4 separate regions of the Homo sapiens genome follow, and regions 1, 3 and 4 are each linked to region 2. Evidence: fine-mapped expression QTL. A gene starts in region 2. Each other region holds a variant in brackets. All regions are shown on one strand. Distances are from middle to middle.

Region 1 (8,106 bases), 110 kb after region 2:
TTCATTCCGAAATTATTCCAATCAATAGAAAAAGAGGGAATACTCCCTAACTCGTTTTATGAGGCCAGCATCATCCTGATACCAAAGCCTGGCAGAGACACAACAAAAAAAGAGAATTTTAGATCAATATCCCTGATGAACATTGATGCAAAAATCCTCAATAAAATACTGGCAAACGAAATCCAGCTGCTGCTGGATCCACCATGATCATGTGGGCTTCATCCCTGGGATGCAAGGCTGGTTCAACATACGCAAATCAATAAATGTAATCCAGCATATAAACAGAACCAGTGACAAAAACCATATGATTATCTCAATAGATGCAGAAAAGGCCTTTGACAAAATTCAACAACACTTCATGCTAAAAACTCTCAATAAATTAGGTATTGATGGGACGTATCTCAAAATAATAAGAGCTATCTATGGCAAACCCACAGCCAATATCATACTGAATGGGTAAAAACTGGAAGCGTTCCCTTTGAAAACTGGCACAAGACAGGGATGCCCTCTCTCACCACTCCTATTCAACATAGTGTTGGAAGTTCTGGCCAGGGCAGTCAGGCAGGAGAAAGAAATAAAGAGTATTCAGTTAGGAAAAGAGGAAGTCAAATTGTCCCTGTTTGCAGATGACATGATTATATATCTAGAAAACTCCATCATCTCAGCCCAGAATCTCCTTAAGCTGATAGGCAACTTCAGCAAAGTCTCAGGATACAAAATCAATGTGCAAAAATCACAAGCATTCTTATACACCAATATCAGACAAACTGAGAGCCAAATCATGAGTGAACTCCCATTCACAATTGCTTCAAAGAGAATAAAATACCTAGGAATGCAACTTATAAGGGACATGAAGGACCTCTTCAAGGAGAACTACAAACCACTGCTCAATGAAATAAAAGAGGATACAAACAAATGGAAGAACGTTCCATGCTCATGGGTAGGAAGAATCAATATCATGAAAATGGCCATACTGCCCAAGGTAATTTATAGATTCAGTGCCATCCCCATCAAGCTACCAATGACTTTCTTCACAGAATTGGAAAAAACTACTTTAAAGTTCATATGGAACCAAAAAAGGCCTGCATTGCCAAGTCAATCCTAAGCCAAAAGAACAAAGCTGGAGGCATCACACTACCTGACTTCAAACTATACTACAAGGCTACAGTAACCAAAACAGCATGGTACTGGTACCAAAATAGAGATATAGACCAATGGAACAGAACAGAGCCCTCAGAAATAATGCTGCATATCTACAACCATCTGATCTTTGACAGACCTGACAAAAACAAGAAATGGGGAAAGGATTCCCTATTTAATAAATGGTGCTGGGAAAACTGGCTAGCCATATGTAGAAAGCTGAAACTGCATCCCTTCCTTACACTTTATGCAAAAATTAATTCAAGATGGATTAAAGACTTAAATGTTAGACCTAAAACCATAAAAACCCTAGAAGAAAACCTAGGCAATACCATTCAGGACATAGGCATGGGCAAGGACTTCATGTTTAAAACACCAAAAGCAATGGCAACAAAAGCGAAAATTGACAAATGGGATCTAATTAAACTAAAGAGCTTCTGCACAGCAAAAGAAACTACCATCAGAGTGAACAGGCAACCTACAGAATGGGAGAAAATTTTCGCAATCTACTCATGTGACAAAGGGCTAATATCCAGAATCTACAATGAACTCAAACAAATATACAAGAAAAAAAAAATCCCATCAACAAGTGGGCGAAGGATATGAACAGACACTTCTCAAAAGAAGACATTTATGCAGCCAAAAGACACATGAAAAAATGCTCATTATCACTGGCCATCAGAGAAATGCAAATCAAAACCACAATGAGATACCATCTCACACCAGTTAGAATGGCGATCATTAAAAAGTCAGGAAACAACAGGTGCTGGAGAGGATGTGGAGAAATAGGAACACTTTTACACTGTTGGTGGGACTGTAAACTAGTTCAACCATTGTGAAAGTCAGTGTGGCGATTCCTCAGGGATCTAGAACTAGAAATACCATTTGACCCAGCCATCCCATTACTGGGTATATACCCAAAGGATTATAAATCATGCTGCTATAAAGACACATGCACACGTATGTTTATTGCAGCACTATTCACAATAGCAAAGACTTGGAACCAAGCCAAATGCCCAAGAATGATAGACTGGATTAAGAAAATGTGGCACATATACACCATGGAATACTATGCAGCCATAAAAAATGATGAGTTCATGTCCTTTGTAGGGACACGGATGAAGCTGGAAACCATCATTCTCAGCAAACTATCGCAAGGACAAAAAAAAACAAACACTGCATGTTCTCACTCATAGGTGGGAATTGAACAATGAGAACACATGGACACAGGAAGGGGAACATAACACACAGGGGCCTGTTGTGGGGTGGGGGGAGGGGGGAGGGATAGCATTAGGAGATATACCTAATGTTAAATGACGAGTTGATGGGTGCAGCACACCAACATGGCACATGTATACATATGTAACTAACCTGCACCTTGTGCACATGTACCCTAAAACTTAAAGTATAATTTAAAAAAAAAGGAAGTAGAAAAAAGATAAGCTAAACCCAAAATAAGCAGAAGGAAGGAAATAAAGATTAGAGCCAAAATAAATAAAATAGAAAATAGAAAAACAATAGAGAAGATCAATGAAAAAAAAATGGGTTCTTTGAAAAGATAAACAAATTGACAAACCTCTAAGTAGATAGATAAAAAGAAAACGAAGACTAAAGTTACCAAAATCAGGAATAAAGGGACGTTACTAATGACCTTAAGAAATAAAAAGGATTAAAATGGAATACTGTGAACAATGAATGCCAAAAATTGGATAACTTAGATGATATGGACAAATTCCTAGAAACATTAACTATCAAAATGGACTCAAGAAGCAAGAACATCTGGAGAGACAAATAACAACTAATGAGATTGAGTTAGTAATCAAAATACTTCCAGCAAAGAGAAGCCCAGGACCAGATTACTTTACTGGTTAATTCTTCCAAATTTTAAAAGAGGAATTAATAGCAATACTTCTCAAACTCTTCCAAAAATCAAAGAAAATATTACTTCCTAACTCATTCTGTGAGGCCATCATTACTCTCATACCAAAAACGGAAAAAGATATTACAAAAAAAGAAAACTGTAAAAGCCCTTGACAAAATAATGACAATATCCAGCAGTATATTAAAGAGGATTATACACCCTGACCAAGTGTTCTTTATCCCAGCAATGCAAGGTTGGTTCAACATATGAAAATGAATTAATACTGTAATACCATATTATTAGAATAAAGGGGAAAAAACCGCATGATCATCTCACTAGACACTGTAAAAGCATTTGGTAAAATCCAGCAGCCATTTATGATTTTAAAAACTAGGAATAAAAGGTAATTTTCTCAATCTAATAAAGGGTACCTATGAAAACCCACAGTTGGCTGGGCACAGTGGCTTATGCCTGTAATCCCAGTACTTTGGGAGGCCAAGGCGGGTGATCAGTTGAGGCCAGGAGTTCAAGACCAGCCTAGGCAACATGCAAAACTCCATCTTTACTAATACAAAAACTAGCCAGGTGTAGTGGCACACACCTGTAATGCCAGCTACTTGGGAGGCTGAGACATGAGAATGACTTGAACCTGCGAGGTGGAGGTTGCAGTGAGCTGATAACACACCACTGCACTCCAGCCTGGGTGACAGAGTGAGACTCTGTCTCAAAA[C/A]AAACAAACAAACAAACAAAAAAAACAAAAAAAACCCACAGTTTTAACATTATACTTAATGGTGAAGACTGAAAGCTTTCCCCTTAAGATCAGGAACAAGAAAGAATGTCGTTTATCACCATTTCTATTCAACATTTTTCTGCAAGTTCTAGCTAAGACAGACAAGAAAAAAGGAAAGAAAAGGCATCCAGATAGGAAAAAAAGTAAAATGATCTCTATTTGCAGATGATGTGATTTATGTCTAGATTTTTTTAAGAGATAGGGTCTCACTATGTTGCCCAGTCTAGGTTCAGACTTCTGGGCTCAAGTGGTCCTCCCACTTCCAACATCGTGAGTAGCTGGGACTACAGGTGTAGGCCATCACATCCAGCTTATATCTAGAAAACCTTTAAGAATTCACATAAAAACTGTTGGAACTAGTAAATCCAGAAAAGTTGAAGATGCAAGATCAGTATACAAAACTCACTTGCATTTACATATAGTAACAGTAAATTAAAACATTCCATTTATAGCAGCATCAAAAAGAATAAACTATTTAGGAATAAATTTAACCAAGGAGGCACAAGTCTAATACACTGAAAAATACAAAACATTGCTGAAAGAAATTAAAATCTAAATAAATGGAAAGACATACCTTGTTCATGGATTAGAAGTTCTGATACATGCTGCAACTTGGATGAACTTTGAATATTTTATGCTAAGGGAAAGAAGCCGAACATAAAACTTCAACCTAAAAAGACTTCCACACTCAGGCCTGAAAAGTCTCAAGTTTTGTTGAACGGCAGGAACGTGAATACTGGCAGTTTCAAGTTGGTTGTAGAACTGAAACCTCAAGCATAAGTGAAAATTACACAATCACCTAGTTTTTTTTTTTTCTTAAGAAAGAACTTTTTTTATTGAGATATGCCACACAAGATACAATTCAGCCACTTAAAATGTACATTTCAGTGGGTTTTTGTTTTTTTTTTAAGTGTATTCAGAGTTGTATAACCATTACCACAACCAGTTTTAGGCTATTTTTACCACTCCATAAAGAAATCCTATACCCATTAGCATTCATTCTCTATTTACTATAGGCAACCACTAATCTACTTTCTGTCCTATAGATTTCTTTATTATGGACATTTCCTATAAATGGAATCACACAATATGTGGTCCTCTGTGACTGGCTTCTTTCACTTAGCATCATGTTTTTAAGGTTCATCCATGCTGTAGCATATACTAGTACCTCATTCCTTTTTATGGCCAAACAATATTCCATTGTATGGATATGCCACATATTTATCCATTCTTCTGTTCAAGATGGTGTTTGTGTTGCTTACACTTTTGGGGGGGTTATTATAAATGTCACTGTTAAGAACTTTTTTTTTTCGACATGAGGTCTCACTATGTTTCCCAGGCTGGTCTCAAGTGATCTTCCCACCTCAGCCTCCCAAGTAGCTGGATCTACAGGCACATCCCACCATGCCTGGTTTGTTGTAGACATTTGTGTACAACAAATTTTTACATGGACGTATGTAGTTTTCTCATCTTCTTGTCCATCTTCTAGCCTACTACCAAAGTGTTTTTGAAATTGATCTTGTTACTTCTCTTTAAGCTGCTTCATTTGTTTCCCCTTTGTCATTTGGTTAAAGTCCATGATCTTGGCTTGAAGAGGCAAGACCCCATAGTTTATTGAACATTTTAAGCCCACTCCTTGATCTATGAGCTGCAGAATGGATGTTGTATTAGCAGACAGGAAAACAACATTAATCTCCTCGTATCATCATTAGAGCTCCTGGCTGACTGGTTACATTGTCAATGAGCAGTAATATTTTGAAAGGAACAGTGGGCTTAAAATGTTCGATAACTATGCTGTCAACAGATGTGCTGTCATCCAGGCTTTGTTGTTCCATTTATAGAGCACAGGCAGAGTAGATGTAGCATAACTCTTAAGGGCCCTAGGATTGTGGGACTGGTAAATGAGCATTGGCTTCCACTTAAAGTCACCAGCTGCTTAGGCCCTAATGAGAGAGACAGCCTGTCCTTTGAAGCTTTGAAGCCAGGCATTGACTTCTCCTCTGTAGCTATGAAAGTCCTAGATGTCATCTTCTTTTAATAGAAGGCTGTTTTATCCACATTGAAAATTGTTGTTTAGTGTGGCCACCTTCATCAGTGATCTTAGCTAGATCTTCTGGGTAACTTGCTGCAGCTTCTGTATCAGCACTTGCTAGCTTCGCCTTGCACTTATATGTTATGGAGATGGCTTCTTTCCTTCAATATCATGAGCCAACCTCTGCTAGCTTCAAACTTTTCTTCTGCAGCTTCGTCACCAATCTCAGCATTTATAGAATTGAAGAGAGTTAGGGCCTTGCTGTGGATTCAGCTTTGGCTTAAGGGAATGTTGTAGCTGGTTTGATCTTTTATTCAAAGCACGGAAACTTTCTCCATATCAGCAATAAGGCTGTTTTGCTATCTTATCATTTGTATATTCAGTGGTATAGCACTTTTAATTTCCTTCAAGAACTTTTCCTCTGCATTCACAACTTGGCTAACTGGCACAAGTGGCCTAACTTTCAGCCTTTTGGCTTTTGCCGTGCTTTTCTCAATTAGCTTAAGCATTTCTAGATTTTGATTTAAAGTGAAAGATGTGCGAGTCTTCCTTTTACTTGAACACTTAGAGGCCATTGTAGGGTTATTAATTGGCCTAATTTTAATATTTTTATATCTCAAGGAATAGGGAAGCCCAAGGAGAGGGAGAGAGACAGAATGGCTAGTCAGTGGATCATTCAGAACACACAGAACTTTATAGATTAAGTTCACTGTCTTATATGGGCACAGTTCATGGCACCCCAAAACAATTACTATAGTAACATCAAAGACCACTGGTCATACATCACCATAACAGTTATAATAATAATGAGAAAGTTTAAAATATTGCAAGAATTACCAAACTTGACCCAGAGACATTGAAGTGAGCACATACTGTTGGCAAGATGATACCAACAGACTTGTTTGATACAGGATTGCCACAAACCCTCAATTTGTAAAAAACGCAGGATCCATGAAGCACAAGAAGATGAAGTACCATCTGAGGTGTGTCTGTATTTTCTTCCATGCTGTTAGGTGTCTTCATATAACCTAAGTTTTAAATTTTGCTAGACAATAACTTAAATTAAGTAATTTTAGAACATTATAAATTACTTCCCCCTTGAAGGATCGCTTGTGATTAGGAGTTTGAGACCAGCGTTGGCAACATAGTGAGATCTTCTCTCTATTAAAATTTAAAAAAAAAAATAGCCAGGCATGGTAGCAATCCTCCTACCTCAGCCCAGCTACTTGGAGGGCTGAGGCAGGAGGATTACTTGAGCCGGGAAGTTGAGGCTGCTGTGAGCCATTATTGTACCACTGCACTCCTGCCTGGACAACAGAGCAAGACCCTGTCTCCGAGAAAAAAGAAAAAAAAAAATTTACTTCCTCTTGATTATAGAACTTTCCCATGTATCAGGTTGATTAAATGGAGATAATTCAAACATTAAGTCAGTTATTCCATGCCTCTTGGATTCTTCTATGTTTACCTTAATATATAGAGAGAAATATATATACATACAAATAAACTAATAATTTGAAGTTTTTTCCATTTACTTGGTACTTAAAATGCAGGGGGAAATATGATATAGGATGGTTAATCATACATTAGGAAAATTCTTTTTGTACACTTGACAGTCTTGGCTACAAACCCAATTCTCTGCTTTCTCATTTCCTATCGACACTTCTTTGATGATACATATGTATGGCTTGTGGGAGGCAGTTGGCTTTTGTTTCCTGTGAGACAGATATCTATCTGTTCCTTCCCTTTAGAAGCAAAGAGGATACTGGTTCTTTCATTGCAAGATCTGTAAGTTAACATTGGACAGCCTGAAATGCATAATCTTTTGTTTTTGTTTTTGAGACAGAATCTCACTCTGTCACCCAGGCTGGAGTGCAATGGCACAATCTCGGCTCACTGCAGCCTCCATCTCCTGGGATGCATCTCCATCTCCTTCTCCTGCCTCAGCCTCCAGAGTAACTGGGATTACAGGCACCTGCCACCCCGCCCAGCTAATTTTTGTATTCTTAGTGGAGATGGGGTTTCACCATGTTTGCCAGGCTGGTCTTGAACTCCTGACCTCAAGTGACCCACCCTCCTCAGCCTCCCAAAGTGCTGGGATTAAAGGCGTGAGCCACTGCACCTGGTCTGAAATGCATAATCTTTTAAAACTGAAAGCCATATCTAATAGTGTTCTTAATTTGTCAAGAATCGTATGAGAAGTGCCAGTGCCCTTTGCCTGTCTAGCTATAAATGGATGATCATGCCCATCCTTTGGAGCCAGCAGTTTTGGTTCTGTCCTTTGGT
Region 2 (8,106 bases):
ACTTTGGGAGGTCGAGACTGACAGATCACTTGAGGTCAGGAGTTTGAGACCAGCCTGGCCAACATGGTGAAACTCCGTCTCTACTAAAAATATGAAAATGGCCAGGTGTGGTGGCTCACCCTGGTAATCCCAGCACTTTGGGAGGCTGAGGCGGGCGGATCACCTGAGGTCAGGAGTTCGAGAACAGCATGACCAACATGGAGAAACCCCATCTCTACTAAGAATATAAAATTAGCCTGGTGTAGTGGCGCATGCCTGTCATCCCAGCCACTCAGGAGGCTGAGGCAGGAGAATTGCTTGAACCCGGGAGATGGAGGTTGTGCCGAGCCGAGATTGCGCCATTATACTCCAGCCTGGGCAACAACAGCAAAACTTTGTCTCACAAAAAGAAACAACAACAACAGCAACAACAAAACACACACACAAAAATTAGCTGGGTGTGGTGGTGGGTGCCTATAATCCCAGTTACTCAGGAGGCTGAGGCACGAGAATTGCTTGAACCTGAGAGGCGGAGGTCGCAGTGAGCCAAGATCAGGCCACTGCACTCCAGCCTGGGCAATAGAGCAAGACTCAATCTCTAAATAAATATATAAAATAAATAAACAGTATTAAGACAAAAATCATAAGGACATTACATAAACCACGTTATGCCAGTGATTTTTTAAAATATCAAAACAGGCAGTTTTATAGAAAAATACAACTTCAGGCCAGGTGGGGTGCTTGTAATCCCAGCACTTTGGGAGGCCGAGGTTGGTGGATCACCTGATCTCAGGAGTTCGAGACCAGCCTGGCCAGCATAGCAAAACCCCAACTCTACCAAAAATACAAAAATTAGCTGGGCGTGGTGGCACATGCTTGTAACCCTAGCTACTTGGGAGGCTGAGGCGGGAGAATCACTTGAACCTGGGAGGAGGAGGTTGCAGTGAGCCAAGATCACGTGACTGCAACAGAGAAATTCTGTCTCAAAAGAAAAATATAACTTCATAAAAACGAAGTAGGGAGAAACAGAAAAGTTTGTCTAGATCTAGAACCATCAAAGGAATTGAATGTTTATTTTAAAATCTGTATCCCGGCCGGGCGCAGTGGCTCAAGCCTGTAATCCCAGCACTTTGGGAGGACGAGGTGGGCGGATCACAAGGTCAGAAGATCGAGACCATCCTGGCTAACATGGTGAAACCCCATCTCTACTAAAAATACAAAAAATTAGCCGGGCCTGGTGGTGGGTGCCTGTAGTCCCAGCTACTCGGGAGCCTGAGGCAGGAGAATGGCGTGAACCCGGGAGGCGGAGCTGGCAGTGAGCCGAGATGGTGCCACTGCACTCCAGCCTGGGCGACAGAGCGAGACTCCGTCTCAAAAAAAAAAAAAAAAAAAAAAAAATCTGTATCCCATCCCCTCAAAAATCTCACAAAAAAACAAAACCAAAGAAAAGTACCTGGCCCAGATGATTTTATGGACAGCAAACATTAAAAAGAACATAAAGTTTTTATCTTCTACATAATTTTTAAAAATTAATTATTTATTTTTGACAGAAAGTCTCGCTTTGTAGCCCAGACTGGAGTGCAGTGGCGTGATCTCTGCTCACTGCAACCTCTGCCTCCCAGGTTCAAGCAATTATCCTGCCTCAGCCTCCAGAGTAGCTGGGATTACAGGTGTGCCCGGCTAATTTTTTGTATTTTTAGTAGAGATGGGGTTTCACCATGTTGGCCAGGCTGTTCTTGAACTCCCGACCTCCGGTAATCCGCCCACCTCGGCCTCCCAAAATGCTAGTTTTACAAGCGTAGGCCACAGTGCCCAGCCTAGATAATCTTTCAGAAAAAGAAGCAAATGGAATTCTCCCCAACTCACTGTGAATTTAGTATAGGCTTAAAACCAAACCAGACATAAATAGTACAAGGAGGCAAAAGTATGGACTAACTTCTTATGGACATATATGCAAAAACGCTAAATAAAATATTAGCAAATAATCCAGCAATGGATTAAACATGTATCACGACCAAGTTGGGGTTTTCCTAGGAAACTAAGATTATGTAATAAAAGAAAAAACTATTAAAGTAGTACAAACTATCAAAGGAAAAAACCTGTATGATCATTGCAACAGGTTCATTTGCGACATAATACAATTTTTTTCTTTTTTTTTTTTTAAGTCTTTTTGGCTGTAAGTTTATTCAATGCAAAATAATCCTCTCCAATTCTACTGAGGTGGCTGACGGTGTCCACGACCAAATTTGCCTCTAAACTGGAATTCGGTTGCTGACCCAGCCCCAGCCTCGGCTTTCTTGTCGGCACCAGGGGGCACAGCACTCCTTCTGTAGGTATCTCTGTCGGCTTCTCCTCTTGTGAGTCTTGCAGGTCGCTCACCCTCCAGACCTTTAGACCGAGGCCTGCCAGTCCCTGGACGGCTGCGGCGTAGGGTGGCAGGCACAATCTCCAGGGGCAGATGAAGGTAATCACGGAGATACTGGATATCCTCATTGGTAAGGTACCAGTAGACATGTCTCCAGGCAAACTGTTCCTTCACGTAGTAGCCTCGGGACTACATGACAGGAAGGTTGGGCACACACATTCTTTTTTTTTTGAGAGGAGTCTCACTCTGTCGCCCAGGCTGGAGTGCAGGGGCGCGATCTCGGCTCACTGCAACCTCCGCCCCCTGGGTTCAAGCAATTCTCCTGCCTTGGCCTCCCGACTAGCTGGGATTACAGGTGTCTGCCACCGCGCCTGGCTAATATTTTTGTATTTTTAGTAGACACGGGTTTCACCATCTTGGCCAGGCTGGTCTTGAACTCCTGACCTCGTGATCCGCCCGCCTCGGCCTCCCAAAGTGCTGGGATTACAGGCCTAAGCCACCGCGCCCGGCCGGGCACATTCTTGTCTGCCAACTCCAGGTGCTTAGGCATGTGGACATCCTTCTTGACCACCGTGACTTCCTCTTTAAAAAGGAGTTCATAAATGGCAATCCGGTTTTTCTTAGGCATCAGCATTCTGGGGAGGAGCAGCCGCTAAGGTGGCAGGGTGGCCCGGATGGGGGCCGATGGAACTCGAACTCCCCCAGAATTTCTTTAATATTTTATATATATATATATATATATATACATATATATATGTATATATATACACATATATATACATATATATATACGTATATATATATGTATATATATACATATATATATACGTATATATATATACGTATATATATATGTATATACATATATATATACATATATGTTGCTCGCTTATTCTTTTTGTCTGTTCCCTTATGTACCGGGAGTGCCAGGAGGACAGGGCTTTGTGTTTTCCTCACTGCTGTCTGGCTCATGCATAGCACAGTCCTTGGCACACGGTAAACACGCTGAGGAGAACTTTTGGGACTAGCGGACTCTGAGCATCATTCCGCTGGGCCCAGTGGGGCCTCTGAAGGGACCCGCCTTGCCCGGCTCCAGCCCAAGACCTGAGGCATGCGCACCGGCTGGCCGGCTACTTTCTTGACCGGCCAAGTGGCAGAGCGGCTGCGCGACCCAGTGCCGAGACGGACGCGAGCCGGAGATGGGGGAAGGGGAGGGGGTGGTGGTGGGGGACGGCGGCGCCTGCGCAGTGAAGGAATGTAGGCGGGGCCTCCACGACGCCTGCGCAGACGGCCGCAGCCCTGCTGGGCGCGAAGGGGCTGGCCAAGGGCGGGGCCCGCGAGGGAGGCCGGGCGGCCCGGCAAGCGGCGCTGCGGGGTAGGCTGCTTTCCTGAGGCCGGACTCAACGGGTCTCGGCTGAGCCACCGGGTGAGCTCACCGCCCAGCCCAAACCAGGAGATTGCGAGGGAGCGATGCGGTGCAGCGCGGTAAGAGCAGCAGCCGGGTTCCCGCAGTGTTCGCTGGCGGGTTGGTTTATCGCCTCAGCGCCGCCCGCGCTGCCGCGCCCGGGCGTCCCCGCAGACCCCGGCAGGCCCAGCGCCTGCGCCGTCTCTGCTCCTGGGCCCCTCCAGTGTGTCCCGCGCCTGCGCCTTTCCCTTCCCGCGCCGTCCTCGTTCTGGGCTTCGGGGCTTCTGGAACAACCCGCAGGCTTCGCCGCCGAGACCCACTGGCCTTCGTCCGTTGGTGTTGGGGTTCAGCTGGTTCTGGGACCCCGCTTGCGGCTTGACTGTGTGCAGACAGGCCGGGTGCGACCCTCGTGCTTGCCTTTCCGCCGCTCCGGGAGAGGCTGGGGCTGCCGCCCCATCGCCCGGGTCCCTTGCCTGGGGCGGGGACAGCGTTGTTCAGTGGCCCCGAGGGCGCAGAGCGGAGGAGCAGGGGCCACAGGCGGCGGACCCCGGGCCTGCTGCCGGTGCTGCTTCTGCTGTGGCCGGCGCCCGAGGCGGACGGAACGTCCTTTTTTCTTGAGACGTGGTTAATTGCATCAGGTTGGATGTGAATAATCCGGTACCTGTCTGAGGAAATTTTGCGTTTCCAGGAATTTGGTAATTGTATTACCTTAAGTAGTTAAGTCTAAGACATCATAGTCGCGGCACGTTGGGCAAGCTGCCCTGGAGATGACGAAAAGAAATCAGTTTCCAGTAGTTTTAGCCCATTTACAGAACACGCAAAAATTCTGTGATCATTCAAATGCGGGGAACCTTGATTTGTTGATATCCTTGATCATTTGTCCAAGTACCAGAAGGGCGAGGAAAAGATTCCCGTGAACAGCCCAGGTGATTTCAGGGAACAGTGTTTTCTTTTGTCAAAAGAGCCTCTTAAGCCATGATAATATTTCCCAAGCTTATAACAGATACAAGCCTTTAAAAAATGGCATTTGCTGTCACCCAGTAGGACACATCTTGAGATGAAATCAGAGCTGTAGGCTTTGTAGACAACAGCAGTCATTTCTGGTGGCTTCAGGGAGTGGAGGGGGACTGCAATTTTGCCAATGTAGGTGATACCAAAGGGACTATAGTAATTTTTTCTTCGTAATTAAAAACCAGGCCAGGCGCGGTGCCTCATGCCTGTAATCCCAGCACTTTGGGAGGCCGGGGCGGGCGGATCACCTGAAGTCAGGAGTTCAAGACCAGCCTGACCAACATGGTGAAATCCTGTCTCTACTAAAAATACAAAAAGCGCGCGCCTGTAATCCCAGCTACTCAGGAGGGTGAGGCAGGAGAATCGCTTGAACCCGGGAGGCGGAGGTTGCAGTGAGCCGAGTTCGCGCCACTGTACCCCAGCCTGGGCTACAGAGCGAGGCTCCGTCTCAAAAAAACAAAAACCAGATATAACAAGGCCGAGCTCCCTGGCTCACGCCTGTAATCACAGTAGTTTGGGAGGCCGAGGCGGGTGGATCACCTGAGGTTAGGAGTTCGATACCAGCCTGGCCAACATGGTGAAACCCCGTCTCTACAAAAAATATAAAAATTAGTCGGGCGTGGTGGCACACGCTTGTGATCCCAGCGGCTCGGGAGGCCGAGACAGGAGAATTGCTTAGGAGGCAGAGGGTGCAGTGAACCGAGGTCTCGCCACTGCACTCCAGCCTGGGCGACAGAGTGAGACTCTGTCTCAAAAAAAAAAAAAAACAGCTATTACAATATACATGTATGTTGTAAAATAACCAAACCAACATAGAAGGGTATATAGTGAAAGGAGAAGTATTGTTGTGGGTAAAATTGTTTCAATAAATGGCTAATCCAGTATTTTTTTCCTCCAAAAAAACACCTTTTCCCCTTTGATTTAGTGTATACCACACAGAGTCGCTTAGCCGATTCAGTGACTTTTTTGATAGCTGGAGAATGCTTCCTAATGGTTGCAGGTGTGTAGGGGTTTTCTTGACATTTTCAGTAAGAAAGTGAATGTTGTGCCATAGGAAAGCTTTATCACAGGTGCACGTTGGTAGCCAACTAAATAACGTGAGTGTCAAGTACAGTATCTAGTGAGTGGAGAATAACTGTAATAATTACAATTACAGTTGTAGTTAAAGTGAAGTTTGTATCAAAATTTCTGTTTCAAAGGTGAACTTTTAGGAGGTGTATCTGCGGTGTTTCTTCCTCAGATGTGATTTCTCTGAAGCAGTGGTTCTCTATAACTGACTTGACACACAGTGCATCTGATATTTCGAATGACTTAAGTGATAGTATCAAAATTACTATCATATACATATTTAAATCACATGACTAACCTGTGTGTGGTATTATGCAAACTGCTCAGCTCAGTAAGGGAACAGAAATAAGAAAAAAAGGACAATATTGGGAGTCTTTTATACAATTCAATTTATTCAATTGAAGGACTATCTTTTCTTTAAAAAAGTTCTGCTTTCTTGGTGTTAAAATAAAGCATCTTTTATGAAATGATGGTGATAGTAAATGGTGATATATGGTAAACGTAAATAGTAAATGCAAGGGTAGTTATTGTGATTTTTAAAAATAAAGAGAGCCGAGAATCTCTTGTTTTCCTGCTGCTGTTAGGGAGTTCAGGAAAAAGTTCCTGGGGCTTTTGCTGTTAAGAAGATTCAAATATAGAGTATTTCTTAAGAGTAAATATGAGTTTATTTTGAGATCATTGGTCACAGTCTACTGAGAAATCCACTGAGAAAGCTGTTAAATTTGCATGGCATTAAAGATGTTCCTATTCTGATCATTGTTAAATAGATCTTTTTTATTAGATATAATTGTTTTTGAGACAGTTTCGCTCTTGTTGCCCAGGCTGGAGTCTAATGGCATGATCTCCGCTCACCGCAACCTACGCCTCCCAGGTTCAAGCGATTCTCCTGCCTCAGCCTCCCAAGTAGGTGGGATTACAGGCATGTGCCACCACCCCTGGCTGATTTTGTATTTTTAGTAGAGACAGGGTTTTTCCATGTTGGTCAGGCTGGTCTGGAACTCCCGACCTCAGGTGATCCGCCTGCCTTGGCCTCCCAAAGTGCTGAGATTACAGGCACTAGCCACCTCACCCAGCCCCAGGAGATTTTTTTGTGTTGTGCCAACAAATAAGCCTAGGCAGGGAAATTCTTTCTGGTGGTTGGAATTGTTAGTACTGAATAGACTAGATGCGAGGTAAAGAACCCCCATGGGGTTTTCTGTCAGCTCAGAAATCATTGTGACCTCAGTCTTTTACTGTGAAATAACATGACCATTAGGAAAGTAGCCTTAAACAACGTATTTTGGGTATGTTGAGAGGGAGGGACAATTATGATCTGTTCCAAAGTGAACATAACAGATGATCCCTGTGTCTGTGAAGCCTTTAAAATTTATAGTGCTCTTCTATTAATTTCAAGTAAGATTTAGAGTTATTGTGACATACTCTTAAAAAACCTGCAGTGTATCAAAAGGCACGTTTTTAAAGCATCTTGAAATGAAATTAATAATGTAATATCTACTTCTTCAGAATAGTAGTTTTTACATTCTGAAGACTGACTGACTGCTCTCAGCCACTTCTGAGTTCTCTATTTTCAAAGAATAATTTGGTATTCCATAAAGGAAATCTGTAAATAAGAGAAGAGAGTGAATATCTTTTAACAGTGTTTTTCCTGATCTTTTCCAAACATCTTCATTGTGGTTCTGTCCTTTATTTTTTGGTTAAATCCAGAGGTTTACTTCTGCCTGTATCTTTCCAAACTATTAATCTGTTCACAATCACTTTCCCATTTAAACCCTTCAGCAGCCCCAGTACCTTCGTAATAAGGTCTCCTTAGCTTGGTATCCAGAACACTTCAATACTGGGCTTTGACCCCTGTTCTCCTTCCCCTACCTCTGTTTAGGTGCTTCACTGAGCTGCACTGAACAGCTCTTGGCCCCTTGAAATCTCTGCAGTCTCCTTGTCTCCCTCTGCTGGAATATTCTTCTCTCACTTCATCTGATCATTGCCTTCAAAACTCAGCTCATTTTCTTATTTCCTTGCCCTTTTCATGTCCCTTGTTTTCCTCCGATTAAATTAATGTTCCAAACTCAAAAGAAAAACAACTCAGCTCAGGCATCACCTTGCCTGGAAGGCTTCCCTAGTCCTCCTGCCTCCTGCAGACTTGTCTGGCACCCTGTGCATTTGGGATTTGGCACACTATGTCTCGTCTGCGGCCTCCACTGGACAATGAGACCGTAAGTGTGTGGCTTGACAGAAAGTTGTTGACTCTGCTGGGGTGCTGGTACAGTGCTGGGCACGGCAG
Region 3 (8,106 bases), 120 kb after region 2:
TTTTGTCCTTGCGATAGTTTGCTGAGAATGATGGTTTCCAGCTTCATCCGTGTCCCTACAAAGGACATGAACTCATCATTTTTTATGGCTGCATAGTATTCCATGGTGTATATGTGCCACATTTTCTTAATCCAGTCTATCATTGTTGGACATTTGGCTTGGTTCCAAGTCTTTGCTATTGTGAATAGTGCCGCAATAAACATACGTGTGCATGTGTCTTTATAGCAGCATGATTTATAATCCTTTGGGTATATATCCAGTAATGGGATGGCTGGGTCAAATGGTATTTCTAGTTCTAGATCCCTGAGGAATCGCCAAACTGACTTCCACAATGGTTGAACTAGTTTAATCACATCTGCAAACTCTCTTGCCATGTAAATAAACATGTTCATAAGTTCCAGAGATTAAGACATCAACAGCTTATGGGCCTACCACAGATATCTTATAAAAGTTAACTTCTGAGAGTTGAGTTTCTAAGATTTAGTTGTGTTATTTTTTTTACAACTCCCGTACCATACAACTCACCAAGTTGGACAGTTCAGTGGTTTTTAGTATATGCACAGAGTTGTATAATCATCATCACAATGAATTTTAGAATATTCTTACCACCTCACAGCCCTAGGCAGCCACCATGGGTTTGCCTGTCCCAGACATTTCATGTAACTGGAATCATTTGTGGTCTTTTGTCACTGGCATCTTTCATGTACCATATTTTTGAGGTTCTTCCACGTGGCATGTGTTAGTACTTCACTCCTTTCTATAACTGATTTTTTTTTTTTTTTTTTTTTTGGAGACAGAGTTTCACTCTTGTCACCCAGGCTGGAGAGCCAATGGTGCGATCTTGGCTTACTGCAACCTCTGCCTCCTGGGTTCAAGCGATTCTCCTGCTTCAGCCTCCCAAGTAGCTGGGATTACAGGTGCATGCCACCATGGCCGGCTAATGTTTGTATTTTTAGTAGGGACAGGGTTTCACCATGTTGGCCAGGCTGGTCTCAAACTTGACCTCAGGTGATCCACCCACCTCAACCCCCCAAAGTGCTGATTACAGATGTGAGCCACTGTGTCTGGCCAATAATACTTCTTAGTTTGTTGTTTGCCTTTGGTTGATTTGCCCTAAAATGGTAATTTGTGACACTTTTGTCCAGGTTTATATTTGTGTTTGTGGGGGCTTTCGGGTTTTTTTTTTTTTTAGGGAAAGGATCTATCTACCTCTTTGCTCTACTGCAGCCAGAAGTTTCCTAGCATGCGTCATTTTGGGATTCTTTTTTATTTTCCCTACCCTCTTTCCTAAGCAAGGAAAAGAAGTACTTACCTTTATTCTCCCAGAATTGTGTGTCCCCATAGATTGAAGAATCAATAGAGTGAGAACTAGTGAACAGATAAAAATAGCTCAGTCCTTCACAGCTTCCTTTGTAATAATAGAAATAGGAGACAAATAGGAGAAAAAGGAAGTGCTCTTTATAAATTGTATGAAGTATTAAGTATGGTACTTGCTACCTGCACAACCCAGGCATGAGATTAGCACTTGGTGTTAGTCACACCCCCTTAGGCCACTACTCATTGCCACCATTTCAAAGCCTGTGGGTTGAGTAGATTCTTATATAAAGGTGACTTTCCTAACCTAAAGAGATTGGGCCCAAAAGCACAAGTTTCTTCTGATTCTTCCTAGACACTACATACTGGAAAAGACAAGGGAATAGAGACGCTTCCTTTTCACATGTCATCCCTCTTTCCCTTATGTGTCCAGCCTTGAAGGGGAATGTTATTTCTACTCATCCCCTACCCCAACCCTTAAAAAAAAAAAAAAAAGAGGACTTTAGTTTCCTCTCTGGAAAACATTCCAGAATGCCGCTCTTCCCCTGATCCTTCCTTTTCTCACCCTTCCACCTTCCTAGCGTCCTCTCTCCATGATCAGAGTTAGGACTGGGCTAGGGGTGTGTGGCATGAGAAAGGTTAGAGAAAGCTGGGAGTTCTTCCAGTAGACAGAATGCTGTTAAAATAATGCATTAGGAATTCCTCATAGTCCAAGCAGAGCTTAGTTGGTTTAATTTCCTCTTCTATAACTGGAATCTTAGGTCACAGGAATTACTTCCCAGAGTTAAAAAATAAAAAAAGGTGCTGGCAGTAGATAAGAGTTTTGATCTGAATCAAATCTAGGTTGAAAGTCTAAATCTTTTCATTTTACATTGTCACTTGCATGGAAACTAAGTATACAGAAAGATCTTATTGTTTGTAAATATCAGTGTGTTCCAGGGGTTAAAAATACTTGAACAAAGGGGAACAAGAATGGCCAGCCTTGCGTCCCACCCATTCTTTATGTGGACTGTGTCTACTCATAAGTTCTCCACAGTGAAGCAATAAAAACTCCTGGAGTCTAATCATTTTCTGTCCTGATGACAAGGTATCTTCATCCCGAAGGCTCAGCGGTTGGCCAAGAGCTTCACATTTCTTGGAGCCACCGGGGAATAGAAACAGCTTGTATCTCAGGGCTCTTCTTGGGCCTGTGTTCCTTTTTTTTTTTTTTCTTTTCTTTTTTTTTTTTTTTTTTTTTTTTTTGAGTCAGAGTCTCACTCTGTCGCCCAGACTGAAGTGGAGCGATCTCGGCTCACTGCAACCTCTGCCTCCTGGGTTCAAGCGATTCTCCTGCCTCAGCCTCCTGAGTAGCTGGGATTACAGGCGCATGCCAGCAAACCCAGCTAATTTTTTGTATTTTTAGTAGAGACGGGGTTTCACCCTGTTAGCAAGGATGGTCTCAATCTCCTGATCTTGGGATCCGCCCGCCTTGGCCTCCCAAAGTGCTGGGATTACGGGTGTGAGCCACTGCGCCCGGCCGGGCCTGTGTTCTTTACTGCACACAGCAGAGGTTAATTGATGGCTTTTCTGTCCCAGTGAAGTGAAAGAACTCTTTCCTGTTTTCAGGGCATTCCTTTTAATGTCAAACATAGCAGCTGGGAAACAAAGTTTTCCCAGAATCACAGTGTACTTACTGCATTCTGTTTAAACATGATCTTGATAGCTACTATTAACATCTATTTCCAGAAATTTCAGGGCTGTAATTTTAAAAATCAGTTGCTTAGTGCCATTACCATAAATGAGTTTGATCAGTGTGTTTTGTGTGTGGTAGATGAGACTACTCAGTCAAGGCTTTTCTCCCCTGGATGACACAAATTAGATCCTCCCAAACAGGGGAAGGAGTGGAGGCCTTGTATACAGCACCAGTCCTTAAATGCTCATTTCACTCCCCTCACTGTGAGCATTTTTCAGAGCTGCATTCAGGACCGGTACATTTGGATTTGGAAAGAGAATTAGGAATGGTGCCCTGGCGGAGGCATGGTCTGTTGGCAGCAACAGCAGTAGCTTGGATGTACCTGTTGTTACTTCACCAACTAGATGGGCTACTGGCGGTGGGCAGACCTAAGCAGTTTGAATGGAACTCTACAGGGTTGTCTTCCCTTTAGCTCAAGGTTTTGTTCCTTTTTCTTGCATTCTTTTTCCATTTAACTTCCACTAATGACATGGAGAAAACCTGCCGAATGTAATAAAATGGTTTGTTTGCCAATGCTCTTGTTTAGCTTTAAGATAATTGTCTCAGGATGCATTTCCTTAGATAAAATGTGAAATACTTCATGTGAATCAGCACCCACATTCCATTCTCAGAAGTTAGAGGAAGTCAGACTTGAGACAGCCCCTAGAAATCACAAACCCAGGGCTTCCATTTCACATCTGCAAATCAGAAAGGTGCCATGCTTGCCTAAGACCATACAATTGGCTCTCCAAGCTCCCAGCCCCAGGCTCTTTCCACTGAGCTGTCCAGCCTCCACGGCAGTGTCCCAGACTCTTCAGTAAGTTTCCAGTAAGTAGGTATTTTTATTACGAGTAATGCTGAGAAACAGAAATCAGATAAGTAACATTTTCAAGAGCTGCCTAATTATTTTGCTAAAAGCAGAATCATTAAATTCTCTGGGTCAAATAATCTTTATGTATCATCTCAAATAACAGGCACAGTTCTTGACTTCCTTGCATCATGAGAAATCATTGTTTTCTTGTGCTTCATCCACTTTGGATGGGATGACAACATAAGGATGTGGCCTCCACAGACAAGTTGGAGTTCAACAGGTTGATTTCATTAGATACATGATTGCTCTGGATTTTCACAAATGAGTTTAGCCTGAGGTCATTCTGGCAATTTATGGTGACCTCTCCATTTGAGAAGCAGGTTATTTGTAAAGATGCCCTGTTGCTGCCTCATGATAAATGATTATGGGAAGGGTAATTAGCCATTAGACAACATAGGGCGGGAGAGAGAGAAACTAGTTTCCTTTCTGAATGCACTCTTTAGATTCAGTAGAAAAGAGGCTGGTTATCTATAAACACCACCCAAAACTT[A/C]ATGGCTTAACATAATGACGTCTATTTATATCCTGAGTTTACAGTTTGGGTGGGGCTTAGTGGGGATATCTCATCTCATCTCATCTCCGCTCTACTCAGCTCAGTGCCACTGGAGAGGTGGAACTAGCTGATGGCTCCCTCCCTTACAGGTCTGGTGGCTGTTGGCGGAGACTTTCACTAGACCTGTGGCCAGAGCACTTCTATGTAGCCTCTCCAATATTTGGTCTGCGCTTCCTCAAAATGTGGTGGCCACATTCCAAGGACAGTTGTCGAGAGGGAGAGACAGGCATAAGCCACCCCACCTTTGATGACACAGTCTTGGAAGCCATGCAGCATCTCTTCTACCATACTGTTTGTCAAGGCAGTTACAAGGGGAAGGGAAATAGGCGCCACCTTTTGATGGGGCATAGGAGGCTTCTGAAGAAGATGTGGGGCCAGAAATACTGCTGTGGTCATTTTTGGAAAATTTAATCTGCCACAGAGACTGTTATCTCTTACTTAAGTAATTAGAGAAGCTAATAATGTGACAGTGACCTGACAGAACCTTATGATGCTTTTTTAATGTTGCCTCACAAATGAGAGGGAATCTGGGTAGATGAGGCAATATGAGGGTGAGATTAAGTGGTGGTGTAGGGAAGAATGCTACATGATGTAAGCCAGGTGTGTTTGCAGCTGCAGGACTTTCTAGTGATTCACCTAAGATTTAGCTTATACCCTGGAACACACAAGATGACTTTCTGCCAGTTAGCGTCCACCCAGGATATCTTCCATCAGACATCAGCTTTTGACCAGGGTCCCTTGGACTGTGCCTGGACTGTATCCAGTTCTGCCATGGTTTATACCTGTACTACATTCAGTTAAAAAGCTCTAAAACAGAGAGAGCCTGTGTGGTACCTAAATGTGTTTGTGGCCTTGGGCTTCCTTTTTTTTAATAGTTGCATTGAGGTATAGTTGACATAATAAATTGCGTATAAAGTTTACAACTTGATAACTTTTGACATACATATACATATATGTCACATATATACACCTGTGAAAGCTATCACCACATGATAGACAAACCATCACCATGAACATTTCCTCGTGCCCCTTTGTACTGCCGTCATCCTGCTTCTCCCCCACATTTCCCATCCCCACACAGCCACTGATCTGCTGTTGCTGTATATTGTTTGTATTTGTTATAGTTTTATATAAATAGAATCATAGTGTGTACAATTTTAGGGGAGTTCTGGCTCCTTTCACTTAGCACATTGAGATTCATTCATGTCATTGTGTGTAACCGTAGCTCATTTCCTTTTTTTCCCTGAGTGTTAGTCCATTTTTTGGGTTTACCACAATTATTAAGCCATTCAGCTGCTGATGGACATTTGGGTTGTTTCCAGTTATTGCTTATTGTAAGCAAAACTCCTATGAACGTTCACGTGCAGGTGTTCATATGGTGTCTTAGTCAGTTTGGACTACTGTAACAAAGTACCATAGCCTGGGTGGCTTATAAACAACAGAAATTTATTTCTCACAGGCCTAGAGGCTGGAAGTCTGAGATCAGGATGCCAGCATGGTGGGATTCTTGTGAGGGCATCTTCCAGGTTGCAGACTGCCATCTTGTGTCTTCACATGGTAGACATAAAGAGAATGAGAGAGCTGTCTGGGGTCCCTTTTAAAAGCACACTAATCCCGTTCATGGGGACTCCACCCTCATGACCGCATTACTTCCCAAAGAACCCCACCTCCCTATATTATCACATTGGGGATTAGGATTTCAACATAAGAATTTGGGGAAACAGGAATATTCAGTCCATTGCATATGCATAAGGACATCTGAAAAGTGGACTAGCTGCTGGATCATGTGGTAGGTATAGGTTGAACATTTTCAGAAGCTGCCCAACTGTCTTCCAGACTGGCTCTACCCTGTCACTTTACCACCAGCAGTGAAGGAGAATTCTAGTCCTTCATATCCTTGCCAAGACCATGTGGTCAGCCTCTAGACATTCGGAACGTGTAGTGCTGTTTCCTGGTTTTAATTTTGCAGTTGCCTGATAACTAATGGTGTTAAGCATCTTTCCACATGCTTATTTGCCACCGTATATCTTCTTTGTATTTTTTGTTTTGAGGGATTTTTTGAGACAGGGTCTCACTCTGTCACCCAGGCTGGAGTGCAGTGGTGCAATCATAGCTCACTGCAGCCTTGAACTCCTGGGCTCAATCGACCCTCCCACCTCAGCCTCCAAAGTAGCTGAGACTACAGGCATGCACAACCACACCTGGCTAACTTTTGTGTTTTTGTAGATAGGGTTTCATCATGTTGCCCAGGCTGGTATCAAACTCCTGGGCTCAAGTGATCTGCCTGCCTCAGCCTCCCAAAGTACTAAGATTACAGGCATGAGCCACAGCGCCTGGCCAGAAATTCTTAATTTTAATAACATGCAATTTATACATTTTTTCTTTTATGAAGCATACATGTGTTTGTGTTGTAAATAAAAAATGTTTGCATAACCCAAGATCACAACGATTTTCTCCTGAAAGTATAATTTTTTATACATTTTGGTCTGTACTTCATTTTGAGTTCATTTCCCAATACGATGTGAGGTATGGATTGAGGTGAACTTTTTGGCCTGTGGACTTAAGTTGGGAAGGTTGCATGTGATAGAGTGAAGGATTTAAGAGCACCTTGAAAACAGCCTGGTCACACTGACACATACAAGATGCCCCATAATACCAGAGAGGGACTGAGGGGAAAGGAAGAGGACATGTCTTCTCCAAGGAAGAGATATTTCATCAGGGTCAATGACAGCTGCTCCAGAAAAGACAGAGGAAGAAGAGCAGATTTGTTTAAGAGACATTTTCATGGATTGCAAAGGAAAGGATTTGGGGATCCACACTTTTTATCTCAATACTCTTCAGAGAAAATAATTTTTTTTTCTCTTTTTCAGACAGAATCTTGCTCTGTCTCCCAGGCTGGAGTGCAGTGGCGTGATATCAGCTCACTGGAACCTCTGCCTCCCAGTTTCAAGCAATTCTCGTGCCTCAGCCTCCCAAGAAGCTGGGATCAACAGGCATGCACCACCACGTCTGGCTAATTTTTTTGCATTTTTAATAGAGACAGGGTTTCACCATGTTGGCCAGGCTGGTCTCGAACTCTTGGCCTCAAGCAGTCTATAGTTTGAGAACCCCCTTGGCCTCTCAAAGTGCTGGGATTACAGGTGTGAGCCACCAAGCCTGGCCCAGAGAAAATACGGATTAAAAAAAGGCTTTGATCTTCTTTGGCTAGATGTTAGACCTCAAGTTATCAAGTAAGGCAAGATTCTGCTCTTGGCCTTGGGTGTCAAGTGACAGAGTGATTCTTTGGGTTTATAGCTCCTGCAGGGAACTGTCAGCGGATGCATCTTTGCAATGCTAGCTCTCTCCTTTAGGCATCTAAACTTGTGGAAATTTTTCTTTCAATGCTCTAAACCAGTCATGAAATACATATTTGACACTTGTTGTGCACAACCAGAGAGGTAGTTAAATACAAGGAGGAACAGAATGCAGTCTAGAGTATGACCTTTGCCCTCAAAGAACTTTCTGTGGTTTTTTTTTTTTGTTGTTGTTTTTTGTTTTTGAGACAGGGTCTCACTCTGTCACCCAGGCTGGAGTGCATTGGCTCACTGCAACCTCTGCTTCCCGGGTTCAAGCGATTCTCCTGCATCAGCCTCCTGAGTAGCTGGGATTACAGGCGTCTGC
Region 4 (8,106 bases), 260 kb after region 2:
GATCATTGCTGATGCTACAGGGCAGTCTCTCAGACAAGAAATTGCAGTGGTTCAGTGTACATGGCCTGCAGGCCTGTGGGCCCCTGTGCAATCTTGGATGAAGCCTTCTGACCCCTCAGTTTTCTCACCGGTAAGATAACAGGTGGCTGGGCTCAAGAATTTCTCCCTAGAAATTCTCAGTTCTGGAAGGCCACCTTCCTGCCAGGCTATAGCTTTATTGCCGGAATCTGGGGTGGAGTAGGTGAACTTCAGTGTGCCCAAAAGAAAAAAAGGAGGCTGTGCACAGTGGCTCACATCTGTAATCCCAGCACTTTGGGAGGCTGAGACAGGGGGATCACTTGAGCTCAGGAGTTGAAGACCAGCCTGGACAACATAGACCTTGTCTCTATAAAATTTAAAAAAAATTAATAGGAAAAAAAGGGCTAAGGCATTATTAAATATAAACCAGACCACGTATTAGACCACAAAAAATTCCCAGTAAACTTAAAGATTAAAATCATAAAAGTGTATTTTCCCATCACAATGGAACAAAACTAGAAATCAGTAGTTGAAAGTTTTAAAAATTAAACAATGGCCGGGTGCGGTGGCTCACGCCTGTAATCCCAGCACTTTGGGAGGCCGAGGCAGGTGGATCCCAAGGTCAGGAGATTGAGACCATCCTGGCTCACACAGTGAAACCCCATCTCTACTAAAAATACAAAAAATTAGCCAGGTGTGGTGGCAGGTGCCCGTAGTCCCAGCTACTCGGGAGGCTGAGGCAGGAGAATGTGAACCTGGGAGATGGAGCTTTCAGTGAGCCAAGATTGCCCCACTGCACTCCAGCCTGGGAGACAGAGCAAGACTCCATCTCAAAAAAAAAAAAAAAAAAATTAACACACTTTTTGTTTTCTGAGACAGAGTCTTGTTCTGACACAACTGTGGCTCACTGCAATCTCCGCCTCCCAGGTTCAAGTGATTCTCGTACCTCACCCTCCCAAATAGCTGGGACTACAGGCACATGCCACCATGCCTGGCTAATTTTTGTATTTTTAGTAGAGACAGGGTTTTGCCGTGTTGGCCAGGCTGGTTTTGAACTCCTGGTCTCAAGTGATCCGCCCGCCTCAACCTCCCAAAGTGCTGAGATTACAGGCATCAGCCACCCTTCCTGACCAACAACACACTTTTAAACAACCAATGGATCAAAAAAGAAATCATAAGGGAAGTTAGATATCTTGAGACACATGAAACAAAAACACACCGAAACCTGTGGGATACAGCAAAAGCAGTACTGAAAGAAATTTATAGCTATAAATGCTTACATTTAAAAAGAAGAGTCTAGGCATGGTGGTTCCCACCCATAATTCCAGCACTTTAGGAGGCTGAGGTGGGAGAATTGCCTGGCCCCTCTACAAAAAATTTAAAAATTAGCCAGGGATGGTGGTGCACACCTATAGTCCCAGCTATTCCAGAGGCTGAGGTGAGAGGATTGCTTGAGCCCAGGAGTTTGAGGCTGCAGTGAGCTAAGTGAGCTATGATGGCACCACTGCACTCTAGCTTGAGCAACAGAGCAAGATCCTGTCTCTAAAAAAAAAAAAACAAACAAACAAAACCAACTGAACTGTACACATTATTTACACATTAAGGCACAAAAAAAGAGCAAATGAAAGAGCTAACAGAAGGAAGCCAATAAGAACAGAGCTAGAAGGAAGATAACAGAGCTAGAGAATAGAAAAAGAAAAAAAGAGAAAGTCAACAAAATCAAAAGTTGCTTCGTCAAAAAGATCAACAAAATTGACAACCTTTAGCTAGATTGAGTAAGAAAAAGAGTCAAATTACTAAAAGGAGAAATGAAAATCGGGACACTACTACCAATTCTACAGAAGTAAAAAGGGTTATAAAGTACTACAGACAGTTGTATGGAAACAAACTGGATAGCCTAGATTAAATGGGCAAATTCCAGCTGGGCATGGTGGCTCAAATCTGTAATCCCAGCACTTTGGGAGGCCGAGACCGGTGGATCACTTGAGGTCAGGAGTTCAAGACCAACCTGGCCAACATGGTGAAACCCTGTCTCACTAAAAATACAAAAATTAGCTGGGTGTGGTGGCGTGCGCCTGTACTCCCAGCTACTTGGGAGGCTGAGGCACGAGAATCACTTGAACCCGAGAAACAGACGTTGCAGTGAGCCAAGATTGTGCCACTGCACTCCAGCTTGGGCGACACAGAGTGAGATTCTGTCTCGAAAATAAATAAATGAATGAATGAGTGAATGAATGAATAGGCAAAGTCCTAAAAACAAAACCTACCAAGATTGAGTCATGAAGAAATATTAAAAAGCACAAACATCAGATCAAAAACTGAATAGTCAGAGATTTTACTCTATTTGCAAGCTAGGTTAGCCTACTGCAGTAGTTTCACAGATGCTCATAGAAGATGTACTTTTTTTTTTTTGAGATGGAGCCTCGCTCTGTTGCCCAGGCTGAAGTGCAGTGGTGCAATCTCAGCTCACTGCAACCTCTGCCTCCTGGGTTCAAATGATTCTCCTGCTTCAGCCTCCTGAGTAGCTGGAATTACAGGCTCCTGCCACCACACCCGGCTAATTTTTGTATTTTTAGTAGAGACAGGATTTCACCATGTTGGCCAAGCTGGTCTCAAACTCCTGTCCTCAGGTGATCCACCCACCTTGGCCTCCCAAAGTGCTAGGATTACAGGCGTGAGTCACTGCACCCAACCAGACAAGACACTCTTGGGTCAGACACAAAGGACAGTTTATTACAGCAATAGCAGTAGCCAGAGTACCAGCATTTTCTTACAGCCATTTCCCAAGCCCAGTTCCCTTAGGGCAACACAAAGAGGACCAAGTGAATCCTGCACATGCAGTGGGTTTTATTGAGGAAAGGAGGAGGGAAGAGAGCTAACAGAATTTGCGTCTTTTATATTGGATGGTTGGTATGCCTTCCCTTTGCACTAACAGGAGGCATTATCTCCACCAAGGTCACAAGAACACCTGTCCTTTGCTCTGTAGATGCAAAGCACCTGTGTCTATCTTCCAAGGCTATGCCAGCTTCTTTGAAAAGATAGTCTAGAACAAAGGCCTTCATAGTTTTAGCTGACAAGACACATACAGAAATGTGAGAGACCTGTGGACAATTATCTCCCAATAATATCCACCCCTCATTTCCACATTGTCTTGGCTTCTGGCAATTTTCTTATGGGTATGCCATTTTATCAGTCACTGATTAATCTGACAATAGGCATAGAGCAAATCAGTTCAGCTTGTCTCACAGAATTTAATTTAATGAACAGCATTTCAACAGAATGAGTCCAACCTGCAATATTAACCCCAATCCTGACCCCAGGGTTTTCTTTTTTTCCTTTATTTCTTTTTTTGAGACGGAGTCTCACTCTGTCGCCCAGGCTGGAGTGCAGTGGTGCGATTTCGGCTCACTGCAAGCTCCGCCTCCCGGGTTCATACCATTCTCCTGCCTCAGCCTCCTGAGTAGCTGGGACTACAGACACCCACCACCACACCCGGCTAATTTTGTTTTTGTATTTTTAGTAGAGATGGGGTTTCACCATGTTAGCCAGGATGGTCTTGATCTCCTGACCTCGTGATCCACCCACCTCGGCCTCCCAAAGTGCTGGGATTACAGGCATGAGCCACTGCGCCCGGCTGACCCCAGGGTTTTCAACTCAACAGGTTGAACAAATCCTATAAACCATCAAGGTCTACCTAAGAAAGCCAGGTGACTTTCTCAAATATTGACCTTTCCACTCAGCCCAAGTCATTAATCCAGGTACAGCAGGATATATTAGATATTGCATAATCTCCACTGGTGGTTCACAGGGAGGAAGCCTAGGGCAACTCTGTCATCCATACAACCTCCACCCTGGCCAGTGAGTTGCCGCTGACCTGAATGCCTTCCAGGGGCAAGGTGGTACCACTGATCACCCAACTAAAGTTAGAGACAAATGTTGCATCACCTTTCCTAATCAGAGGACTCCCATCATAGGGATAATAAGTGCACATAAGGAATGAGTCAATTATCAGTCCAAGAAGTTCCCCTGAGTAAACAAGGGCAGCCTCACTTTAGAAAGATCTTCACAGTTGTCAGCTGGGTGCGATGGCTCACGCCTGCAATCCTAGCACTTTGGGAGGCCAAGGCAGGTGGATCACCTGAGGTCAGGAGTTCAAGACCAGCCTGGCCAACATGGTGAAACCCTGTCTCTACCAAAAGTACAAAAAAATTAGCTGGGCGTAGTGGCAGGCGCCTGTAATCCCAGCTCCTTGGGAGGCTGAGGCAGGAGAATCGCTTGAACCTGGGAAGCAGAGGTTGCAGTAAGCCGAGATCACGCCACTGCACTCCAGCCTGCATGACAGAGCAAGACTCCATCTCAAAAAAAAAAAAAAAAAAAATCTCCACAGTTGTCTGTGGGCTACATAATCTATTGGTGGTATTTGCTTAAACACTTGAAGGTCTCTTGACCACCCTGAAGGGGCAAGACACTATTTTGGGGAGGATGATGAGTTAATGTTTAGCCTCCACACAAGTACAGTCACAAGGGCACATATCGTTACCCCTAGAAAATATTTATAATTGTTGGAGGTCCCCCAAGTGGGACCTATATTTGTTGGAGCACAGGTCCTGGCCACCTGGTGGGGCTTCAGGTTCCCAGTTTACTTT[C/CT]TTTTTTTTTTTTTTTTTTTTGAGCTGAAGTTTCGCTCTTGTCACCCAGGCTGGAATGCGGTGGCGCGATCTCAGCTCACTGCACTCTCCCTGCTAGGTTCAAGTGATTCTCCTGCCTCAGCCTCCCAAGTAGCTTCCCAGTTTGAATAATTCAGTCTAGTCCTTGTATTTGGAAGGACAGCCTGAGGGCAGTTAGTCCAATCTATCCCATTTGTCCATACCACTAGCAAGGTGGCACTCGTTCTCTCCACAGAATGGCTGAGTGGAGTCTATGGGAATAGGGATGGGAACGACAACTGATGGTATCACAGGTGATTTTCATGGAAGGTGCAGGAGCCAGGGACATCCCCTGCTCTTTCCAGTGGACTTCTGGTAAGGTTAATGGGAATGGTGAGCAAACCAAATGGTGGCCAAAGCCATCTGTTGTTGGGGCAAGGCAGAACCCACAGTCGTTAAATTTGTTTTATTTGAGACAGGTTCTCAGTCTTGCCCAGGCTGGAGTGCAGTGGTGCCATCACAGCTCCCTGCAGCCTTGAATTCCTTGCCTCAAGCGATCCTCCCCTGCAACTTCCCAAGTAGCTGGGATTACAGGCAGGAGCCGCTATGCCCAGCTTTGCAGTCAGTTAAATTTGAGGTGCTTGCAAAAGCTTGGGAGAGCTGCACAGATCTTTTTTATGTTCATAAGGAAGTCTTCAGGGGCAATTATGAAGGACAAAGATCATAAATGCCTCCCCCTCTTTATCTCCTGGAATCCAAAGTATTTTCTGTCTAGGTGCCAGAATTGCTGCTCCCCCTCCCAAATCGGTGTCTCATTTCAATACCTATAGTCACTTCTTTAAGGAAAAAGAGGTGACTGGACTGACCAGTACCAGCCACCTCCTTTTCCAGTTATCCCCTTTGTGCACCTAGACTTTTTGATTCGAAGAGTCAGGTCCAAGAGGAACAAGGGCATGTTTACAAAATGCGTGGGGACCCATTATGTTCCCCACTTTGTCCTGTATGTGCCACCCTAAGGGGTCTCAGCGAGCAGCGTACTTGCCCAAGTGGTCATTATTCTTATGCTCTAAGACCATGTCAGTCCAACAAGAGAATCCAGGTGGCTGAAACACAATCAGGTTTGAGCCCCTAGACCCCCTTACAGTTGGACTGCCATCTAGGAGGTGTGCCCACCAGGCTGGCCTGGGATTGCTGCCAGGGGAAAGCAAGCAAGCAACACGCCCAGGAAGAGTCTGATCAGAATCCCAAATTTTAAAAATATTTCTTTATAACCTTCCTACACCTCTTCATTCAGACACACCTTGCTAGGAAGTAGCCTTTTTAAAGACAGCTGCATTTGGTGACCAAAATGTTTTAATAGGGCCAGGCGCATTGGCTCATACCTGAAATCCCAGCACTTTGGGAGGCTGAGATGGGAGGACTGCTTGAGGCCAGGAGTTCGAGACCAACTTGGTCAACATGGCAAGACCCCATCTCTACTTAGAAAAAGAAAAAGTGGGGTGCAGTAGCTCACATCTTTAATCCCAGCACTTTGGGAGGCTGAGGCGGGTGGATCTCTTGAGGTCTGGAGTTCAAGACTAGCATGGCCAACATGGGGAAACCCTGTCTCTACTAAAAATACAAAAATTAGCTGGACATGGTGGCGTGTGCCTGTAATCCAAGCTACTTGGGAGGCTGAGGCAGGAGAATGGCTTGAACTCGAGAGGCAGAGCCAAGATCGCACCACTGCACTCCAGCCTGGGCGACAGAGCGAGACTCTGTCTTGAAAAACAAAAACAAAACAAAATGCTTTATGAAAGTGTGTGGACCAGGAAGGAGGGAGAAAAGTAGAGTCAGAGACCTTGAGTTGATTTTTTTTTTTTTTTTTTTTTGAGACGGACTCTTGCTCTGTCACCCAGGCTGGAGTGCAGTGGCGTGATCTCGGGTCACTGCAACCTCCGCCTCCCATGTTCAAGCGATTCTCCTGCCTCAGCCTTCAGAGTAGCTGGGATTACAGGCACCCGCCACCATGCCCAGCTAATGTTTGTATTTTTAGTAGAGATGGGGTTTCTCCACGTTGCTCAGGCTGGTCTCGAACTCCCAACCTCAGGTGATCTGCCTGCCTCGGCCTCCCAAAGTGCTGAGATTACAGGCATGAGCCACCGCACCCGGCCCAGTTTTTGAGGAAGCCATTCCAATACTCAACAATGCCAGAATCTCATGATGGCAGGAGTGTGGAAGATCTTTTGAATACCACTATTGTTGAGTGGCTTTTATGATAAAAGGTGCACCATTGTCACACTGCAGATGGTCCAGAGAGCCAAAACATGACACAGATTAGTTTCAGGGGTTGCAGTGGTATGCCCAGAGCTGGTTGATAGGACTGCAACAATCCAATAACCTGAAAAAGTGTCAACAGTGGTAAGGCACCACCAATAGCCCCAAGAGGTCAAAGGTCTAATGGAGTTGATCTGCCATGAGTAGGCTGAGGCCACGCCCTGTGCAAGATGACCTCCTCCTATGCAAGAGAAATGGGCCAACCTTTGGTAGGAATCACAGCCTGGTATGTGGTGGTAGCGTCTGCATCAGAAATAGTCCTTTCCAGCTGGGTGCGGTGGCTCATGCCTGTAATCCCAGCATTTTGGAAAGCCAAGGTGGGTGGATCACTTGAGGTCAGGAGTTCGAGACCAGCCTGGCCAACATGGTGAAACGCTGTCTCTACTAAAAATACAAAAATTAACTAGGCATGGTTGTGCGTGCCTGTAATCCCAGCTACTTGGGAGGCTGAGGCAGGAGAATCATTTGAACCTGGGAGGCGGAGGTTGTGGTGAGCCGAGATGGTGCCACTGCACTCCAGCCTGGGCGACAGAGTGAAACTCCATCTCAAAAAAACAAGCAAAACCCCCCCACACACATACACAAATAGTATTTTCCATTGTGCCCAGTCCATGGTGGTGGATGTGTTGCCATGTCCGGCATAATGATGGATCCCAGTAGCAATATGGCTAGTGCAGGCTCCCTCAACAGCCTTATTTCCGTTGGTCTAATCAGAGAACAGGCTTCAACCATGGACATCTACATGTGTGACCCAGACAGAGCAATCACAGCCAAAACTTATTTCCATAGTTCATGACCCCAAAGATGGGTGTCTTTAATCTGCCAGTTGAGGTTTTCTAAGTGTCAGACCGAACACCTAGGCCATTGGCAACACCCCAAGAGTCAGTAAAAATATAACAAGGGTTACCAAGAGGAGTATTGGCTCAGGGCCTACTGAGCAGAGTTACTCATCAATTTTCTGTTCTGCGCAGCTGTTTCTGAGGGTGAACAGCCACAGCAGCCCTGTGGACACCATGAGGCTTCCACTTCATCAGACCATCAGTGAACCAGGCCCTGGCATTTAGGAGAACCTCTGTGAACTTAGGTTCCTGTTGACCCAGTGACTTTGCTTTGGTGGAGTGGGGGATAT

Direction of the effects. Positions count from the first base shown, and alleles are read on the strand shown. Sizes are in standard deviations (SD) of each study's normalised expression. Not every link is listed here.
In carriers of allele C in region 4, the expression in monocytes after LPS of the gene that starts at base 3,677 in region 2 tends to be lower than with CT alone (large effect, 0.89 SD a copy in Fairfax 2014).

The links. PIP is the estimated chance that this variant, and not a neighbour inherited with it, causes the effect.
Region 1: its variant is fine-mapped to the expression of SPECC1L in whole blood (INTERVAL, PIP above 0.99).
Region 3: its variant is fine-mapped to the expression of SPECC1L in whole blood (INTERVAL, PIP above 0.99).
Region 4: its variant is fine-mapped to the expression of SPECC1L in monocytes after LPS (Fairfax 2014, PIP 0.95).

What each region holds. Positions count from the first base shown.
Region 1 is chr22:24,372,223-24,380,328 of GRCh38, forward strand. All of the region lies in intron 14 of SPECC1L (sperm antigen with calponin homology and coiled-coil domains 1 like), which reads left to right. All of the region lies in intron 15 of SPECC1L-ADORA2A (SPECC1L-ADORA2A readthrough (NMD candidate)), which reads left to right. Among named protein-coding and RNA genes, the nearest start is that of ADORA2A, 51 kb to the right of the region's middle. The variant C/A (reference allele first, on the strand shown) is at 3,732.
Region 2 is chr22:24,267,155-24,275,260 of GRCh38, forward strand. It overlaps SPECC1L (sperm antigen with calponin homology and coiled-coil domains 1 like), which reads left to right and starts at 3,677. Exons shown (of 17, transcript NM_015330.6): 1 at 3,677-3,829. It overlaps SPECC1L-ADORA2A (SPECC1L-ADORA2A readthrough (NMD candidate)), which reads left to right and starts at 3,663. Exons shown (of 20, transcript NR_103546.1): 1 at 3,663-3,829. It also overlaps the pseudogene RPS10P29. RefSeq lists a silencer at 3,466-3,995 and enhancers at 4,056-4,135, 7,970-8,019.
Region 3 is chr22:24,388,343-24,396,448 of GRCh38, forward strand. The region is part of intron 14 of SPECC1L (sperm antigen with calponin homology and coiled-coil domains 1 like); the gene reads left to right. The region is part of intron 15 of SPECC1L-ADORA2A (SPECC1L-ADORA2A readthrough (NMD candidate)); the gene reads left to right. LOC105372960 (a long non-coding RNA gene) reads right to left here. Exons shown (of 2, transcript XR_938082.3): 2 at 5,872-5,994. Among named protein-coding and RNA genes, the nearest start is that of ADORA2A, 35 kb to the right of the region's middle. The variant A/C (reference allele first, on the strand shown) is at 4,387.
Region 4 is chr22:24,528,419-24,536,524 of GRCh38, forward strand. No RefSeq gene overlaps it. Among named protein-coding and RNA genes, the nearest start is that of GUCD1, 23 kb to the right of the region's middle. The variant C/CT (reference allele first, on the strand shown) is at 4,665.